Homo sapiens: one gene and its partners. The protein of the gene in region 1 purifies or fractionates together with the protein of each later gene. This does not show direct contact. Each region holds a gene or a part of one and is shown on either strand. Other genes may lie near its edges.

The links. Proteins that work in one complex are often made in the same cells at the same time.
Region 2: the proteins of TAS2R41 (region 1) and YKT6 purify together in Homo sapiens (affinity purification with mass spectrometry; 3 studies listed by BioGRID and IntAct, with this or other methods). This does not show direct contact.
Region 3: the proteins of TAS2R41 (region 1) and SNX3 purify together in Homo sapiens (affinity purification with mass spectrometry; 3 studies listed by BioGRID and IntAct, with this or other methods). This does not show direct contact.

Annotation. Positions count from the first base shown.
Region 1 is NC_000007.14:143,473,458-143,479,299, forward strand, and holds TAS2R41 (taste receptor type 2 member 41), read left to right. Parts: upstream 1-4,415; coding exon 4,416-5,339; downstream 5,340-5,842.
Region 2 is NC_000007.14:44,203,962-44,210,992, forward strand, and holds part of YKT6 (synaptobrevin homolog YKT6), read left to right. Parts: intron 1-606; coding exon 607-689; intron 690-2,423; coding exon 2,424-2,524; intron 2,525-3,426; coding exon 3,427-3,531; intron 3,532-4,171; coding exon 4,172-4,237; intron 4,238-7,031. UniProt on the Homo sapiens protein: Vesicular soluble NSF attachment protein receptor (v-SNARE) mediating vesicle docking and fusion to a specific acceptor cellular compartment. Functions in endoplasmic reticulum to Golgi transport; as part of a SNARE complex composed of GOSR1, GOSR2 and STX5.
Region 3 is NC_000006.12:108,251,026-108,258,056, reverse strand, and holds part of SNX3 (sorting nexin-3), read left to right. Parts: intron 1-7,031. UniProt on the Homo sapiens protein: Phosphoinositide-binding protein required for multivesicular body formation. Specifically binds phosphatidylinositol 3-phosphate (PtdIns(P3)).

The DNA of each region.
Region 1 (5,842 bases):
CAGAATAATGTAACACTGTAATAATGGTATAGAAATTACTTTTAATTCTAATATAATAGTTAAAAGATAAAAATTTGATAATGGATACACAATATAAAAAGAAGCAAACTGACTACAAAAGCACAAAGTGTGGGTGGGGGAAAGTAAAAATGTAGAATTTTAATATGCAATTGAAGTTAAGTTGTTAACATAAAATAGACAATTATATCTACAAGGTATTTTATGTAAACCTCGAGTTACCCACAAAGAAAAAAACCTATAAAAGATACACAAATATAAAGGGAACATAAAAATTGAAGAGTTAAAGGAAATCACTACAAAAATCATCAAATGACAAAGCAAGACAGCAAAAGAGGAAGAGAGGAACAAAACAACTGCAAAACAAATAACAATTATTGCTATATTTGATATTATTGCAAAAGGGTCCTCAGCTACCAATAATTACTTTAAATAAAAATGGATTAAACTACCCAATCGAAAGGCAAAGAGTGGCAAATAAATTAAAAACAACAAGATCCAGAGATATGCTGTCTGTAAGAGATCACTTTAAGACACACGTAAGATGAAACTGAAGGGATAGAAAAGATTTTCATGCAAATAGTAAACAAAAGAAATCAGGAGTAGTTATACCCAACAAAATAGAATTTAACTAAAAAACTGTCTCTAGAGACAAATAAGTCATTACATAATAATAAAAGGGCCAACTCAACAGGAAGATAAGACAATGATAAAAATATATGTGCCCAACTTGAGAATATATAAATATACAAAACAAATATTGACAGTTCAGACAATATTGACAGCAATATAATAATAGTAGGAGACTTCAATAACTGACTTAACATAATGAATAGAACATTCAGACAAAAATGAATAAGCAGTTTACCCGAACAACACTGCAGACTAAGTGGACCTTTTCACCCAATAGCAGCAGAACACCCATTCTTCTCAAGGGCACATGCAACATTCTCCAGGATAGATCCCGTCCTAGGTCACAAAATAAGCCTTAACACATTTAAGGAGATTGAAATTATTCCAACTATCTGGTCTGACCACAAAAATTAAACTAGAAGTCATTAACAGTAAGACAACAAAAACATTCAGAAATACATGGAAACTAAACACATTTTGAATAATCATTGAATCAAAGAATCAAAAGGTAATTTGAGAAGGATTTCAAGACAAATGAAAACAAAAACACTACATACCAGCACTTATAGGAATGCAGTACTAGAGGGAAATTTGTAGTGATAAATACATTAAAAGAAGAAAGATCTCAAATAAACAACCTAATTTTACACCTCAAGGAAGTAGGAAAAGAGCATAAAACATAAAACACTGATGAAAGAAATTGAAGAGGACACAAATAAATGGAAAGATATCTTATGTTCATGGAATGGAAAAATAAATATTGTCAAAATATCCAAATTATCCAAATCTACAGATTTCATGTAACTTCTATAAAAATTCCAATGTCACTCTTCACAGAAATAGAAAGAAAATCCTAAAATTCATGTGGAATCACAAAGGACCCTGAATAACTAAAGCCATCTTGACCAAAAAGAACACAGCTGTATGTATCACACTACTGTATTTCAAAATATATTACAAAATGATAGCAATCAAAACAGCATGGTTCTGGCAAAAAAACAGACACATTGACCAATGGAGTAGGATTGAAAGCCCGTGTATAAAACTACACTTCTGTGGTCAATTGATTTTTGACAAAGTGCCAAGAATACACAATGGGGAAAAGATAGTCTCCTCAATAAATGAGGTTGGGAAAACTGGGTATCCACATGCAGAAGAATGAAATTTCATCCTCTTCTTACACTACATGCAAAGTTAAATCAAAATAGATTAAATATTTAAATGCAAGACCTGAAATCATAAAACTCTTAGAAGGACACATAGGAAAAGAGCTTCTTGACACTGGTTTGGGTAATGACTTATAGAAAACTACACCTAAAGCACAGGCAAAAATTCAGCTAAATAAACATAGACAAATGGGATTGCATCAAAATAAAAAGCTGCAAAGCCAAGAAAACAACCAGCAGAATGGAAATTGGGAGAAAATATTTGTAAACAACATATCTAATAGGTGTTAATTTCCAAAATATATAAGGAACTTTGGCTGGGTGCCCTGGCTCACGCCTGTAATCTTGACATTTTGGGAGGCCAAGGCAGAAAGATTGCATGAGCCCAGTAGTTTGAGACTAGCCTGAGCAACATAGTGAGACTCTGTCTGTACAAAAAATAAAAAAAATTAACCGGGTGTGGCAGTGCATGCCTTTAGTCCCAGATACCTGGAAGGCTGAGGTGGGGAAGATTGGATCATCCTTCCTACCTTGAGGCTCCAGTGAGCTGTAATGGTGCCACTGCGCTCCAGCCTGGGTGGCAGAGTGAGACCCCGTCTGAAATAAATAAATACAAATAATAAAAATACAAGGAACTTATTCAACTGTAGTGCAGAAATAAACAAAAAACATAAATAACCTGATTTTAAAATGGGCAAAGGACCTGAATAACATCTCTCAAAAGAAGACAAAAATCGTTCATGAAAATATGTTTAATATCACAAATCACCTGAGAAATGCAAATCAAAACCACAATGAGGTATCATCTTACATGTGTTAGAATGGCTGTTACCAAAAAGATGAAGGATAACAAGTGTTGGCAAAAATACAGAGAAAAGCAGCTCTTTCAGTCTGTTGACAGGAATATAAATTATGGAAAACACTATAAAGATTTCTCAGAAAATTAAAAACAGACCTACCTTATCCAGTAATTCCACTTTTAGGTGTATATGCAAAGGAAATGAAACTAGTATTTTGAAGAGATATCTGCACTCCCATGTTCATTGAAAATTATTCACAATAGCCAAGACATGGAAACAATCTAAAAGCCCATTAACAGATGAATGAACAAAGAAAATGTGGTGTGCATACACAATGGAATATGATTCAGTCTTAGAAAAGGCGATTCTGCCATTTGCAACAACGTAGATGGAACTGGAGGACATTATGCTATGTGAAATGCTCCAGAGACAGAAATACATATATTGTACGATCTCACTTACATGTGGAATCTGAAAAAACAAACCCACAGAAGTAGAGAGTAGATTGGTGGTTGCCAGGGTTCTGGAAGGGGAAATGGGGAGATATTGGTCAAGGGGTATGAAGTTTCAGTTATGCTAAGTGAACATGCTTTGGAAACCTAAGGTATGGTAGTATGAGTATAGTAAACAATACTGCACTGTATACTTGAACTTTCATGAGAGGGTAGATCTTAAGTGTTCTCACTACACATGAAGAAATTGAAAACAGGAATTATGTGAGGTGATAGATATATTTTAAAAGAAAATATTTTTACTTTCAACATGGTCTCATAGGGACTTCTTTTTGATGTTGGTGTTAGACAGGACTCACATATGCCTCGGGTATCTCAGGGTGGCAGACAGACTGTAAAGTGGCCCTGCCTGTCCCTCAACCCTGGTGTTGGGCCTTTGTGTAACCTCCTTCTTTTGAGTGTTGTTGGTGACAGTGACTTGCTTCTAGCCAATAGACTATGGCAAAGGTGATAGGCTGTCACTCCAATGATTGTGTTATGTTATTTAAGACCCCATCTTGTTAGCAGACTCCCTTTAGAGACTGCTGACTTGACGTGAGTGGCCATGCTGAAACAGCTTACCTGGCAGAGACTGTGAGAGGCCTCTAGGACCAGAGAGCAGTCTCCCACCAACACCCAGGAAGAAACAGGGGCTCTCAGTCCTGCTTCGGAAGGCCCCTCAACCACATGATAATGAATTCTCTCACTGGAAATACAAAACCCGTTTACACCATTATCATTTACATCTCAGGATTCATGGAGGATCTAAGTAGAGATCTGGATGGAGAGGTAGACGAAGTGTTTGATTTTGAAGCGATTTGTGGGCAAAGGCAGTAAGGTAAGCATGGATGTGTAACAGGGAAGTACTGAGACAGAATTCTTTGATGTCACTATTTTTCCTGTGTATCTCCTATACTTGTCTCTATATTTAAAGTCTTAAGAATGTTCTGATGGGAAGAGGAGTGTTCATACGGCCTGAGGATGGAACTCAGTCACAGAGACCCAGAAAAATCATAGACATTGATACTAACCATGGCAGCATGCAGGAAAACTGGACAAGGCAAATTAGGGTAATTTGCAGGCCTAGTGGTAACTGACACTAGGATAAATTTGCATCCTGTCTGAGCCAAGAGCACACCTCTCCTCTTTAGCCTGAGCATCCTCCTCTCTAAGTGAGCTCTGGTTCAGATGCAGAGCCTGACCACTCTTTAGCACTCCTAGGAAAGATTAAAAACAGGACTGTGGCTAGGGGCAGGGAGGAGGCCAGGGACCAAGGCACTCAAGTGGGGACTGCAGGAGGGGTCAGAATGCAAGCAGCACTGACGGCCTTCTTCGTGTTGCTCTTTAGCCTGCTGAGTCTTCTGGGGATTGCAGCGAATGGCTTCATTGTGCTGGTGCTGGGCAGGGAGTGGCTGCGATATGGCAGGTTGCTGCCCTTGGATATGATCCTCATTAGCTTGGGTGCCTCCCGCTTCTGCCTGCAGTTGGTTGGGACGGTGCACAACTTCTACTACTCTGCCCAGAAGGTCGAGTACTCTGGGGGTCTCGGCCGACAGTTCTTCCATCTACACTGGCACTTCCTGAACTCAGCCACCTTCTGGTTTTGCAGCTGGCTCAGTGTCCTGTTCTGTGTGAAGATTGCTAACATCACACACTCCACCTTCCTGTGGCTGAAGTGGAGGTTCCCAGGGTGGGTGCCCTGGCTCCTGTTGGGCTCTGTCCTGATCTCCTTCATCATAACCCTGCTGTTTTTTTGGGTGAACTACCCTGTATATCAAGAATTTTTAATTAGAAAATTTTCTGGGAACATGACCTACAAGTGGAATACAAGGATAGAAACATACTATTTCCCATCCCTGAAACTGGTCATCTGGTCAATTCCTTTTTCTGTTTTTCTGGTCTCAATTATGCTGTTAATTAATTCTCTGAGGAGGCATACTCAGAGAATGCAGCACAACGGGCACAGCCTGCAGGACCCCAGCACCCAGGCTCACACCAGAGCTCTGAAGTCCCTCATCTCCTTCCTCATTCTTTATGCTCTGTCCTTTCTGTCCCTGATCATTGATGCCGCAAAATTTATCTCCATGCAGAACGACTTTTACTGGCCATGGCAAATTGCAGTCTACCTGTGCATATCTGTCCATCCCTTCATCCTCATCTTCAGCAACCTCAAGCTTCGAAGCGTGTTCTCGCAGCTCCTGTTGTTGGCAAGGGGCTTCTGGGTGGCCTAGATGGCATGGTTTCCTTATCTAGACCCCCGGAAAAGAAAGGTGAGGATGGCAGAGCTGTGGCCCACTGACATGGAGGTGTTTTCATAGGTAGATGAATACTGGGTACTGTTATGGGGCTCCTCCTCTGGGAAGCGGAGGAGACAAGGAAATCTGGGAACTCTCTGAGCATGCTTCCCTTCTTTGGAATGTTATAAAGATGCAGTCCCATGGATCCCAGAGAGCCAGTATTGCCCAGAAGTTCAGAATATGTTAATATGATGTCGTGCTACTCCTTACGTTTGTACCCCTTTGTTATCTGGAAGGCTTCGATTAAAAGTGTTGATTAACTGTGCCATCGCATCTCCACTGCCTTTCAGAAAGTTAAGAGCAAATATTTGCCTCTATGGCTGAACTGAGATGTGGATAGTGAAGCGACAGCCTTCTTGAGGACAAATGTCATGGTTACTACGAGAGCCCCAAGGGACAGGCAGTTGTGGCAGGCAGTGGCCTGGGCTGTGAGTTCT
Region 2 (7,031 bases), about 99 Mb from region 1:
CTCCCTTTCACCCTTTGTATGAGCCATTTCCCACTTCTTTGTCTTGGATGAGCAGTTTTCCTTTTGTTCCATCCAGAGTGTCTTGCGCTCGTTCTGTGGACGAGCCCCAGCAGACCTGAGCCAGCACTCACTATGGGTGTATGTGGCATTGCGAGGGTCTGTCATGTGGACACAGCCATAAATGGTTGTGCATTTCTGCCTGACAGTTTTTGCACACTATTCTTCTAGTGCAGTTCTTATAAATGTCCTGCTTCTTGGAAGTTATTGGGACCTTGAGAGCAGGACCTGCCTCTTGTTTTTCCATTGCATTCCAAATTATGCATTCACCAAAATGTAAAATTGACTGTATCCTGTGGAAAAACCCCCCAGAAAATTCACCTGTTTTGGTGAGCCAGGTAGCAAACAGATGGAGCTTTCATGGTGATGATAATTCATAATTATCAGTATTTGTGCTCATTTATAGAGTGTTTGTTACTAGGGATGGGAGGGAAAGGAATGAAACCAAGAAGCAATGTCTACTTAATGTATAAGCCCAGAGGTCACTTTCCACTGTGTTGGGGACAAGGTGATAAGAAGTAGGCAATAAATACATTTTGTGTTTCTTAGCGTTCAGGAATTCATGACCTTCACGAGTCAACTGATTGTGGAGCGCTCATCGAAAGGCACTAGAGCTTCTGTCAAAGAACAAGGTAAGAAGACCCTCCAACTTCTGTGCGTGTGCTGGCCTGGCTGCCATGCCTCACCTCACATAGCACCCAGCTTTCTCCTTTCTACTGGGACCCTACTCCTCCTCTAGCTTGTTCTCTCTTTCCCACCTCTTCCTTTTCCTATTTATGCAGAATTCTGTGCCCACTGTTGAAGTCTGAGCTTCCCAGATAAAATTGCCCTCAAACTTAGACTCATTTAAGATTAGGGTCTGACTCTTTTGGAGCAGTAAGCAGCCTTCATATCGTATTCTTCCCTATCCTCTTCAGAGTTGCAGACCCCTCAAAAAAGGATTTCCAGCTAGCACTGTTGAGGTACTATATGTATTCTGTGCATCGTAGATTTTTTGATCAGGAATCTGAAAAAACTATTTTTTCTTTCTGATAATTCAGGTTTAGGCATTTATTTAGATGTGTATGTTATACAGACAGATCAGGAAAGAGTTACATGAGTTTCATCAGGTAGGGACAAAGATCATCTCACACTTATGCTAACCTCAAGTCACGTGACATAGAGTTACTGAATTGATGATATAAATGTCAGTTATGATACAGGCAGGATTGACTATATACACTTTATGTGGGATCTCTGTGCTATTAACATCATAGAAGTGAAATCGCATCACAAATATTTCAGTGTTCTTGCTCTGTTCTTCAAACTGTGCCTGCCCTTCCCACGTTTATTACTTAAAGACAATTCCTCCACTGACCAGGTTCTCAGTTTCTTTGGAGGGTATGCACTTTGACCCCATGTTTGAATCTTAATTGGGGATGGTATACAAAATCTGGAGAGCATTGGTGACAACCCCCTGTCCTCTTCCTCCTCCTCATTCTTGTTCTCATTTATCTCTGCTCTTTTCTGATTTCAGGGGCTCACCATCATTCCCTCCTCTTTTATTTGTTTTTCTGTTGTTTAGCATTGGAATCTTCTGGGTCAGATCCTTAAGGACAAGAAGGTTCTTATTTGTAAGCTGTAATCCTTACATTTCTCTTTCCTTGGGGATATGGTTAGCTGTATCAACTCTGAATCCTTTCAAAGTGATGGAAATGAACAATCCTGTGGATTGTGAATATTTTGCGGAAGACCTGTACAACTGTACCTTTCAATCATATGAGGATTTTAGCACAGTGCTCTGGAGGCCTTAGCTGGCAGTAGCTAATCTTTTTCTAGACTAACCCCCCTACTCCCAGTCACCCACCAGAGTGGAGCAAACCCAGCAGGTTGCTATAATATGGAAGACTGAGGCCCTGGGGGGTAATTTCCTGTCTTTTGGCTGCTCTGAAAAGATTTTTTAAGAAAGCAGAGGCCTCTTGGCTTGTCCAGGGTTCCCTAAGTTTGGGAGCAGCACAGAGCCCCAAGGGCTCCAGATCCCTAAGATATAGCTTGGCCTGACCCGAGCTTAAGGAATACACTTGGAAATGCTCCTGGGGCCATGTTGTCAAGGGTGTGTTTTCTGCACCACTGGCTGTTTCTTTAAGCCCTGGCTTTGCATACTGGGCCTCTGGGTATTTACTGGTCCTAAAGCAGGCGTTGGGCCAAGCTCCTGTGTGTGGCCCATTGGGCTGTGCTGCTAAGCCTCTCCACAAGACTTGCCCAGAGCTATTGAGCTTCCGAGTGGCTTCATTTGGCCTAACATTGGATGCTTTGATTTGGGGGGATTAAAAGAAGTCTGAAGCCCTCATGTCAGCATCCATGTGTCTGATCTCTTGTCTCCTTAGACTATCTGTGCCACGTCTACGTCCGGAATGATAGTCTTGCAGGTGTGGTCATTGCTGACAATGAATACCCATCCCGGGTGGCCTTTACCTTGCTGGAGAAGGTGAGTTTTTTATTTGCCTCTCCTGGACTTGGATGATGAATGGGCACATTTATGGACTGGGACAGGGGTTGATGGCAGTCCCTGAGACATAAGGGATGAAATGATGTGTCCAAAGTCAACACATTTTTCAGCCCCCTTCCCTGCAACCCAAGAGACAATTTGGCATCCCTGTATGGGTTTCCTCCCCGGTGCTGTCCCTCATGTGAGCTGGGTCTAGGCCACTGAGTCATAGCATCTATTCTCTGGGATGGGACCCTCGGAGACAGCTGTGCCTTGTGTTCTCGCCCCCTGTGCTTCTGCTCAAGGAGTCTCCCTCTTGAATGCCTTCACTCTCCCCATTGCCTCCTGCAGTTGCTGCATCCCTCTACCTTGATGTCAGTCAGTTGCACCACAGAGCTTAGCACCTAAGCATTCTTTAAATTTTTTTGCGTACGGTGCTAATTACTAATATTAACTCTTTGAAGTCAGAGGCTTCATCCTATACCCCAGAGCACCAAAATACCTCCAAACACATGGAATCTGGTGGTTTCTTAAATCTAGGGGACCTAATTCTCTTTTTTAAAAAATTGCTTTGGAAAATTAGAGGACCAGTGCCCCTTTTTTCTGGAAATCTGTAGTTTAAAATTCAAATACCTTTATTACTCCCCAAGTGAGGTTCATCTCGGGCTGGGCATACTTTTGATTCTCAGAATATTTAGGATATGTTTTAATGATAAAAATTTGGAAAGAACTTTAGCCTAGATTTTCTCTGTTGCCATTATATGTCCCCCTCATTCCTCCTTCCTGGGCTGTGAAGGCCAAGGAGCCTCATTCAGGGTGAGGTGCTCAGGGGTGAAGCCCTGTCATTGAGACCACTGGTGAGTGCACAGTGGGAGGCTTGTTGAGTCTCCTTTGTCTTGCAGGTACTAGATGAATTCTCCAAGCAAGTCGACAGGATAGACTGGCCAGTAGGATCCCCTGCTACAATCCATTACCCAGCCCTGGATGGTCACCTCAGTAGATACCAGGTAGGGTTAAAGGAAGCTTCAGCAGACACCATGTGGCCCAGAATCCATGTGAAACTGAAAAAGCCAACTGCCCTGATAGTTCTGGTCTAATTACTTCTGACAGCTTCTGATGCTGGTGTCCTCTCTCAAGCCTTACTGTTTGGAAAACAGAGAATCTACGTTCAGACCGGGGAACCCAAGCTCTAGGCAGGCTTTGGGTTTCTGTTACATGTTAAACAGGCTGTGGGTTTTTTTTTTTGTTTTTTGTTTTTTGAGTTGGAGTCTCACTCTGTTTCCCAGGCTGGAGTGCAGTGGCGCAATCTCGGCTCACTCAACCTGCACCTCCTGGGTTCAAGCGATTCTCCTGCCTCAGCCTCCCGAGTAGCTGGGATTACAGGCATGTGCCACCACGCCTGGCTAATTTTTGTATTTTTAGTAGAGACGGTTTCACCATGTTGGTCAGGCTGGTCTCGAACTCTTGATCTCTGGTGATCCACCCGCCTCATCCTCCCAAAATGCTGGGATTACAGGCGTGAGCCACTGTGCCCGGCCCAGGCTGTGGTTTTTAACCTGTGAAAGTTTGTCCAGCTTCCTCAGTTTTAGGTTTTGTTTGCAGGTAGCCACTCCAGTCCTGACTTTATTATTTTTCACTCTTTCCTAGAACCCACGAGAAGCTGATCCCATGACTAAAGTGCAGGCCGAACTAGATGAGACCAAAATCATTCTGGTAAGCAGGAAGATGGAGAGCAAGCCCAAGAACTGAGGCGGGGGTGCGATTTCCACTGGCCAGGCATGCACAGATCCATCCTCGTTTTAATATAATAGTAACCACGGCACTCTCCAGCAAGTGGGATTGCCCACCCCTTCCCCCACCCCGGGCATCAGACTGTCTTTCCTATACCCTTCTCTTGGTTAATGGCACCCATTGTTTCTAGGGGACCAAGCTGGGAACCAGTGGAACCCTCAAGTCTCCCTTCCTCATGGCTACTGCCTGTCTGACCATTTACTGGGTTCCTAGGGTTTGGCTTCTGAAGACCTGGATTCCCACCCTGGTGCCTTTGTTAGGGTTTCGGGTGCCTCCACACCCCACAGGTGCCTCCCCTTGCAGCGTTTGCATTGAAGGTGAACAGATTGAAGCACCGTGCACTGACCACAGGGCAGCTTCTGGAATATGGGCCCAGGGTTGTCACATAGGCCCCTTTGAAAAGAGCCAGAACCCTGCATTTTGAGCTGAAATCTCCTGATTTGTAACTGTTGCTTCAACTCTTTTTTTTTAAATTTTTGCATACAAGTGGAATGTAAGCAGCTATCTGTTTTTCTCAGGTTTTTCTCTTACAGCCTTTGCCTCTAAGTGGTCCCCTTGCCTCCTGCTCACCTCCAGTCTGTCCACCAGAGAGTAGTCATTGATCTGCACAACTTAGAACCCTTCAGCAGCTCTCAGATCCGCCCCAGGATAAAGTGCAAACTAACTCACAGTCTCCTGACTGGGCCCTGTTCTCTCTTATACCCTTTCTTGCCCAGCTCACACACAGGCGCCTGAAGGTTGGGCCTTTCTGACCAGATGTCACAGTTTTGTCACTGCTTGTTTACATGTCTCCCTGACCAGCGTATGAGCACTGGGACATCTTTCCATCCTGCTCATGATACAGTGCCTAGTTTATACCATGCTCAGCAGTTGATAGATACCTGGAGTGGATTGAAACCCACATACAAAGCTTTACCATTTACACAGGCATAGCTTTAGTGTGTACATCAGCGTCTCCTGGGGTTGGAGTTGTTGGCCTGCGATGGAGCCTGGGAACCTGCATTTTATAAAAAGCATCCCAGGGGCTTCAAACACAGGTGTGCTGACTGCACTCCAAATAACGTGGCTTTGGAATGAACGATAGATGTGAAAGTCTCATGGTATCTGTGTCTTTTGAAACCTTGTGAGCTTTCTTACCACCTAGGTGGCATTTCTCCGTTTTCTCCTCAAGCCATCTCTTTCTGTTGCTCAAGTCCTAGTCTGAGTACCATGACACCTGGGACACCCGCTGTTTCTCCTCTCCCCACGGTGGGGAGTGGATGAGTCCTATTCACCCAGCCTCATCTAGCTGCAGTTGTAAAATCTAGATGATTGGTGTGCATATCTGAATCAGTTAACTTTCTGTGTTAAAAATTTGAGTCGCTCAGCTGTGTGTAGGGATGAAGGACATTCTTGCTGGCTCCTTGTTCTATGGCGCTTCATGTGTGCATCTAGCTGCTGCAGCAGTGGCCATCTGAGGAGAGAAGCGAGCTGCTGCTTCCTGAGGGCCCTGGCAGCAGAGCTGCTGGCTCTTGTGAGGTCTCCATCTCTAGACCCCTTCCCATGGGGTCAGTGTTTTCATTTCCTAAGTCAGAGTTTGTAGTGATGACATTTAGGACATAGCCCATTTAGAAGGCAGGACATGTTCTGTCATAGTGCTGTCTGGTATATATTTGGGGCATGTGTGTAACTTAGAATTTTCTAGGAGCCATATTTTAAAATGATAAAAGGAAAATAGGTAGAATTTAATTTAATTATATATTTTACTTAACGCAGTATATCCAAATACAATTTTTCCAACATGTAATCGGTATAAAACTTGTTTTTTTTTCAGTATAAAACTTACTAATGAAGCATGTGTGAGTTTGCATCTGAAATCTGGTGTGTCTGTACTCAGAGCGCTGCTCAGTTTGGACTTGCCTCACATCAAGTGCTCAATAGCCATTTCCCACCGCCTTTTGTTTCCTGTGGCTGCTGTCAACAGAAACCCTCAAATATTTGCTTTTAACAGATAGCTCTGTGGGCCTGGCTGGTGTCTTTTGGGGCTCTGAGTGTCTGTCCCAGGCCTCTCTCCAGCCTCTGGTGGCTGCTGGCCATCCTTGGCATTCCTTGGATTAGAGGTGCATCACTTCAGGCTCTGCCTCTGCCGTCACGTGACCTTCTGTGTGTGTGTTTCCGTTTCTTACCAGGACATCAGTCATGGAATTAGATGCCACCCTAATCCAGTATTACCTCTTCCTAACTAGTTACATCTGCCAAGACCCTATTTCTAAATATGGTCACATTCAGAGATTCTGGGGATGTTAATTTCTGGGATGCGGTTGGGGTTGGGGGGTGCGGTGTGGGTCACTCTCCAACCCAGTACAATCATATAGTGCCCAGCTACTCTTTTTTCCAAAGCTCCATGCACACGCACATGTGCGTGCACACACACACACACACACAAATGTATATATAAATGTGTGTGTATATATATATATGAGTTTTCCTGGAGTGCTGGTTATCTAAGCCTGTGCTGGGGACAGCTTTTTGGGAAGTCTGCTACATCCCAGTTAGATCTTCTAGATTTCACGGGAATGTCACCAGGTTCTGTTCCATCCACTTGGACAGTAACTATTCTTGGACCGAGTCTCGACACCTAGAGGTGAAGTTTGTGTGTGTTGGAGAGGAACCCAGGTAAGGCACTTTCCCCCATGACTGAAATATGAGGGGCTCATGTCAGGGCACGTACTGAACA
Region 3 (7,031 bases), on another chromosome or scaffold:
AATGCCAGTGCCTATGTGAAAACCTAATTGAGTTTTTAATGCATGAAATGACTTTGGATTTCTTTCTTTTTTTATTTTTATTTTTATTCTTTTTGAGACAGAGCCTTGCTCTGTCGCCAGGCTGGAGTGCAGTGGCGCGATCTTGGCTCACTGCAACCTCTGCCTTCCGAGTTCAAGCGATTCTCCTGCCTCAGCCGCCCAAGTAGCTGGGACTACAGGCACGCGCCACCACGCCCAGCTAATTTTTGTATTTTTAGTGGAGACGGGGTTTCACCATGTTGACCAGGATGGTCTCAGTCCCTTGACCTCATGATCTGCCTACCTTGGCCTCCCAAAGTGCTGAGATTACAGGCGTGAGCCACCATGCCCAGCCTGGATTTCTTTTAGTATGTAATGTGTTAACTTAAAACTAAGGACACCATATAGTAAGGAAATTAGGCCTTATTTGAGCAGCATATGATTTTTTAGAGTAATTATAGTCTTGCATTAAGGCAGAGTGGCTATGACATGAATAGTTTAATATTTTGTAATTTTTTTCTTCTTGAGATAAGAGTCTCGTTCTGTAGCCCAGGCTGGAACACAGTGGCATGATTGTGGCTCACTGCATTCTCAAACTCGAGGACTCAAGTATTCCCCCCGCCTCAGCCTCCCAAGTAGCTGGACTACAGGGTACTACTATACCTGGCTAATTTTTTATTTTTTGTCAGATGAGACTTGCTATGTTGCCCATGATGGTCTTGAACTCCTGGCCTCAAGTGGCCCTCCCCCTCTCAGTCTCCCAAAGTGTTGGAATTACAGGCATGAGCCACCTCACCCAGCCCTGCAATTTTATTTATTATTTTCTAAATGTTGCTGCTCTCCCGAACCCCTACTGACTACCTTTTGCTGTTGAATTTGCTATGTGGAAAACCATTTTATGTTCCAGAATTTGGGCTTTTAAACTATCTTACAGTTACTGTCTCATTCTGGTCTTGAGAAAAATTTACAGTTTTACAGGATCTGATTGAAATTACTCTAATTCACAGGGCAATTTTATATGGATGGTGGCACTTAGAATGCAAGTTTCCCAATCTCCATTTATCTTTTGGTTTGAGGATAGTGTTTAAGACTATTAGGATCACTTGATTAGTATCTCTGGGCTTTTGAAAATAATTACACAGTGTTATGTTTTTAAAAATTGTTCTAATGGGTAGGTACAGCAGAGAGCACCATAAATGATTAAAGGTTTAGGAAAGTTCAAGGTCTGGAATTATTTAGGCATATTCAAGAGAAGGCTGAAAGCAAAATTCAGTCACTGTTTATGAAGTTTGTGCTGTAATATAACTTTAATATTCTGGAGATTTTTAAGTTAATCAAGATCTATTTTACCTGGAGACCACTGTTTTGAACAGGAATGGAATTAGAATCTTTCTTGAGCTCTGACATAGTCCTCAGTTCAAAGAATAGATTTAACATTTCCTAGCTGGGTAAGATACAAAATCAAAGCTCCACTTCCCCTCTGTGAAATAGGTGTGCTAATAATAGTACCTACCTCTTAGGACTAAATGGGATAAGGCACATGAATCTTTCTAGCACAGTGCCTGGCACATAATAAGCACGCAAAATTTAGCTCTTTCTAAAGATAGACATTTTCTAAATTAAACGTCAGTGATCAACTACATTTTCTGTGTGTTAATGTTTAGTTGAGTTACTAAAATTGTTAGATTTTCTTGTCAAGAAACCTACTTGTCATGGAAGTATACCTTCATTAAGCAAGCATGGTATAAAAATAAGCTATCTTATTTGGTACTTAACCAAGTAACCTTTGTGTATGTATTTATTTTTTCGAGACAGGGTCTCCCTCTGTCTCTCAGCCTAGAGTGCAGTGGTGCAGTCACAGCTCACTGAAGCCTTGACCTCCCAGGCTCAAGTGATCCTCCCAACCTCAGCCTCTCTACTAGCTGGGACCACAGGCGCATACCACCACACCCAGCTAATTTTTAAATTATTTGTAGAGACGAGATCTCACTATGTTGCCCAGGCTGCTCTTGAACTCCTGGGCTCAAGTGATACTCCCACCTCAGCCTCCAAAACTGCTAGGATTATAGGTGTGAGCCACCATGCCAGGCTCCAAATAATCTTTTAAAGTTGAGCTTTATTAAAGCATAAAGCTGAATAATAACGTTGGCTGATAAAAATTTTGACAAGGTGCTAAATAAATGTAGCATCTTATCTTGACAGTGCTTGCCGTTCTAAACTTGTATATGTTTTTTCCTCTGGGTCAGTCATCTAATCTTAAATTAGGAGTCATTAATATCCAGATTGGAAGCTGAGAAATAAATTTTAAAATCTTAGACTTATTTTTGGGAATTATAAACATGTATTATTGAAGGGCTAAAATATTAATAGTATTTTAAAGAATCGGGGGGTCGGGCACGGTGGCTCCTGTATGTAATCCCAGCACTTGGGAGGCCAAGGTGGGAGGACTACTTGAGCTCAGGCGTTGCCACACAGCCTGGGCAACGCAGTGAGACCCTGTCCCTACAAAAATTTAAAAATTAGCCAGGCATGGTGGCGTGTGCCTGTAGTCCCAGCTATGTGGGAGGCTGAAGTGGGAGGATTTCTTGAGCCCAGGAGGAGGTCAACACTGCAGTGAGCCACGATCATACCACCGCACTCTAACCTGGGTGACACAGTGAGACCCTGCCTCTAAAAAAAGCAAAGCAAAGAAAAAAAAATCAGGGCATTTTGATGCCAGAGGACATCTGCAGAATCTATGTAGCTCTATCAATTGGCCAATGAGATGTTGTCTGTTACACATGTTGCTGCCAGCTACGGCTGACTTTTCCAGGATCTCCATCAAGGAGAAGCATGCTATTAGCAGTGAAGATTCTGTCCTTATCTAATCCATCCCCAGAATGGAGAGTGGGGGAGGAAGACAGTGGCTATTTTAAAGTAGTCCTGTTATATTGAGTTTTTAGGGATTCTGTTCTGTTAAGGGATGTATCATTTGAGTATCTTTTATGTGCAAAGCACTGTGCTCTATCTATAAAATTTAATCTTGAGGTAACCAAGCAGAGTAGATAATATTCCTGTAGAAGCTGATCAACTGATCCTCATCTCTTGTCCTTTCCTCATTTTAACTCCAGTCCTGAACTGGTATCTCCCAATTAAGCTGAGTTCTTTTGTATCCAGGCCTTTTGCACACACTTCCTCCTCTGTTAAGAACAGGCTTCCTTTAAGAGCCTCATCTGGTTACTATCACTTATCCTGCAGGACTCAGCCTTAATGTCCCCTTTTTAAAGATTTTGCTGATCCCTTGACTCTGGACCAGATTTCCTTCCTGTGTGCCCTGGTAGCTTTGTTAGGAATAAATTTGTTTGCTTGTCTTTGGCTTCCTGTAAGTTCCTGTGTCACCCATTATAAGCTCTTAGAGGACAGGGACTGTCATAATCACCCTTACTCAATATCCAACACTGCTTGGCACATAGTGGACACTTACAAATAAATGAAGTTTAAGAAAGTTAACTTCCCCAGGGTCACAGCTATTAAATGGTAAAACTGGGATTTGAACCTAGATTTTCGGACCTTCAGAGCCCGTACTTTTGTTTGAGACAGGGTCTCACTCTGTTGCCCAAGCTAGAGTGCACGGTGGTGCAATCTGGGCTCATTGTAGCCTCGACCTCCTGGGCTCAGGCAACCCTCCCAACCTTCGCCTCCTGAGTAATTGGGGCTACAGGAGCACGCCACTATGCCTGGCTAATTTTTTTGTATTTGTAGAGACAGGGTTTCTCCATGTTGCCCAGGCTTGTCTCAGACAAGGTTTTACCATGGTTGCCCAGAGCCCTCACAGAAAATTCATATCACCTGAGGAGCCTTTGAAACCATTCAGGTTCTCTTTTACTGGGGTGGGGTGGGGTTTGGGCAGTGGCGGTTTTTTTTTTTTTCTTTGAGACGGAATCTCACTCTGTCACCCAGGCTGGAGTGAGGTGGTGCAATCTCAGCTCACTGCAAGTTCCACCTCCTGGGTTCATGCCATTCTCCTCCCTCAGCCTCCCGAGTAGCTGGGACTACAGGTGCCTGCCACCACGCCTGGCTAATTTTTTTTGTGTTTTCAGTAGAGATGGTGTTTCACCTTGTTAGCCAGGATGGTCTCCATCTCCTGACCTCGTGATCCACCCACCTCGGCCTCCCAAAGTGCTGGAATTACAGGCGTGAGCCACCAAGCCCGGCCGGCAGTGGTGGTTTAAAAAGCATCCCAGTAAGGGCACTTATATGCAGCAAGGATTTCTCCTGCTGCTTATCATGCTATCTGTCTCACTGAGATAGATAGACAGTAGAGAAGGAAGAGAAATATACATAGAACCACAATGGTTGGTAGCTTTGATGGGATTAAAAAAATAGATTCTAAAATAGTAAAACATAAAATGAATAGCAGATCTTGGCAACAGAGAGGAAAACCAGTGACATTTGTCAAAGATAGAAAACTTTTTGGAGGGGAGGCATTTAAATATTAACTGAAAGCATACCAATCTCTACAGCTTAAGTTTTTGGGAGGAAGGGGAGACACAGACTACATTCAATCAAGCCAGATCTTTTTGCCCTTGTCTTGCATCATCCATGTCTATATCCCTGTATAATAATCATGAAAGTAAGCCAGAAGTAAAAAAAAAAAAAAAAAAAAGACATATGTATTCATTTAAGAAAGGAATTTTTTGGAGACAGGTTCTCGCTGTGTTGTCCAGGCTGGTCTTGAACTCCTGGGCTCAAGTGAGCCTCCTACCTCAGCCAAGTAGTTGGGATTACTGTTGCATGCCATCAAGCATGCCTCAAAAAAGGAATCTTTATAAATATTGTCACTTTATACCTGTAAAGGGGAAAATCTAAAAAAGTGCTTTGAGCTATCCTGGTGATCACATGCAATAGACATTTTCCTCTCCTGCTCACCTTTATCATCATGCTTATCTCACCCCTTCCAGAAAGTAGTAGACTGTTATTATTAGATACTTTGATGTTTGTACCATGTTATGCTGCTTTCATGTAAATAGAGCCAGCAATTTCTTGAACATCAGATAAGAAAGATGGTGTCCAAAAAAATCTTGGAACTGCTATTTTCTTTTTTCCAGAAGTTTATTCTTAGGGCCGGGTGTGGTGGCTCATGCCTGTAATCCCAGCGCTTTGGGAGGCTGAGGCGGGTGGATCCCTCGAGATCAGGAGTTCGAGACCAGCCTGACCAACATGGCAAAACCCCATATCTACTAAAATACAAAAATTAGCCAGTGTGGTGGTGCATGCCTATAATCCCAGCTACTCAGGGGGCTGAGGCACAAAGATTGCGTGAACCTTGGAGGCAGAGGTTGCGGTGGGTGGCAGCGCGACTCTGTGCCAAAAAAAAAGAGAAAAAGAGAAAAAAAGTTTATTCTTAAATGTGCAACAGGCTCCAAGACATTTCATCCTTTGCTTCCTAGAGTGGAAGCAGAAGATTTTATAGTAGGAAATGCAGATATTTAAATAGGAATGGGATCAAGGGTCATCATTGCCTCGGACACAGTGGTTTGTTTTTTGGTTTTTGTTCTTGTTTTCCAGATTTCTCCCTTCTAAGTACTAACCAGGCCCAACCCCGCTTAGCTTCTGAGATCAGACGAGCAATTGCATTCAGGATAGAATGGCCATAGACTTTTGCCGGATTTCTTAATTCCACCTATCCAGGGAACCCTTCCCTGTGGCCTTTGCTTTTAGCTCCTCAAGTTTTTTCTGCTCCTCTTCTTGTTTCTGCTTGAAATCCTTGTCTTCCTCATACATCTCCTTGGCCTGTTTCTCGTCAGGGGCTTCTTGCCGTAGGTGCCTGTCAGGAAGCTGGACGTGGTGCCTGCCATCCCTTCCTTAGACCCAGCACAGGAAACTGGAACTGCAGTTTACTGTTTTGATTCCTTAGTTAAAAGACAAAGCTTTCAACCAAAGTTCTACTTCATTTTTTTGTTTGTTTGTTTGTTTTATTTATTTATTTATTTTTGAGACAGTCTCTCACCCTGTTGCCCAGGCTGGAGTGCAATAGTGCAGTCTCAGCTTACTGCAGCCTCTGCCTCCCTGGTTCAAGCAATTCTCATGCTTCAGCCTCCCAAGTAGCTGGGAATATATAGGTCGTGCACCACCATGCCTGGCTAATTTTTGTATTTTTAGTAAAGATGGGGTTTCATCGTGTTGCCCAGGCTGGTCTCGAACTCCTGGCCTCAAGTGATATGCCCACTTCAGCCTCCCAAAATACAGGCATGAGCCACCGCGCCTGGCCACTACTTCTTTAAAGAAATATTTAACTGACAACCTAGGAATTTGGAATGTGTTAGTAAAATGTGACGTTTGCTATAGCTTGCCAGAAAGGTTGTATCAGGTAGTATAGAGTTTGGGCTGTTCTCAGATAAAGAGGATAATTTTTTGTTTTTTTGGTTTTTTTCTCCACATGGAGAGGTTTCAGGTACAGTCCAGGGTTAGTATTGTGGCTTGACTATCAGCTTCTAACATCATATTCACATTCTAGCCAAGGGGAATGTTTATTTCTGCCCTTGAAGGACACAACCAGGAAGTCGTATTATTTCTGTTTCTGCGCATTGCTGTACTTAGCTACAAAAGAAGCTGGGAAATTTAACCAGGTGGCCATGTGAAGAAGGGAAGAGTAGACACTGTTCTTTGCTTTGCCACATTAACAAATGGTTGTGGTTGGCCCTTCTAGGATATGGCTTTAAGCTACACTGTGATCATCTGTTATTTCCTTTTTTTGCTAATGCCTGGAATTTCAGTTTAGAGTAAGTTCATTTGATTTGCAAGAAATAAAATTGTACTTTCATTAGTTTGGAAGTCTTAAGTGAGTAAGTTTTGATTCTTTCATGATAATTAATTTTGTTAAGTTGAGAAAAAAGGCAAGCATGAAGACATGGCATATCTGATAGGGGTATACCTTGAGATTGGGCTAGAGATTCTAAAGGTAGTTGATTAACCTTTTTTTTTTTCCTTCCAAGGCTGCTTAAAACTATTTTGGTTTTACTTAGGACCACCAT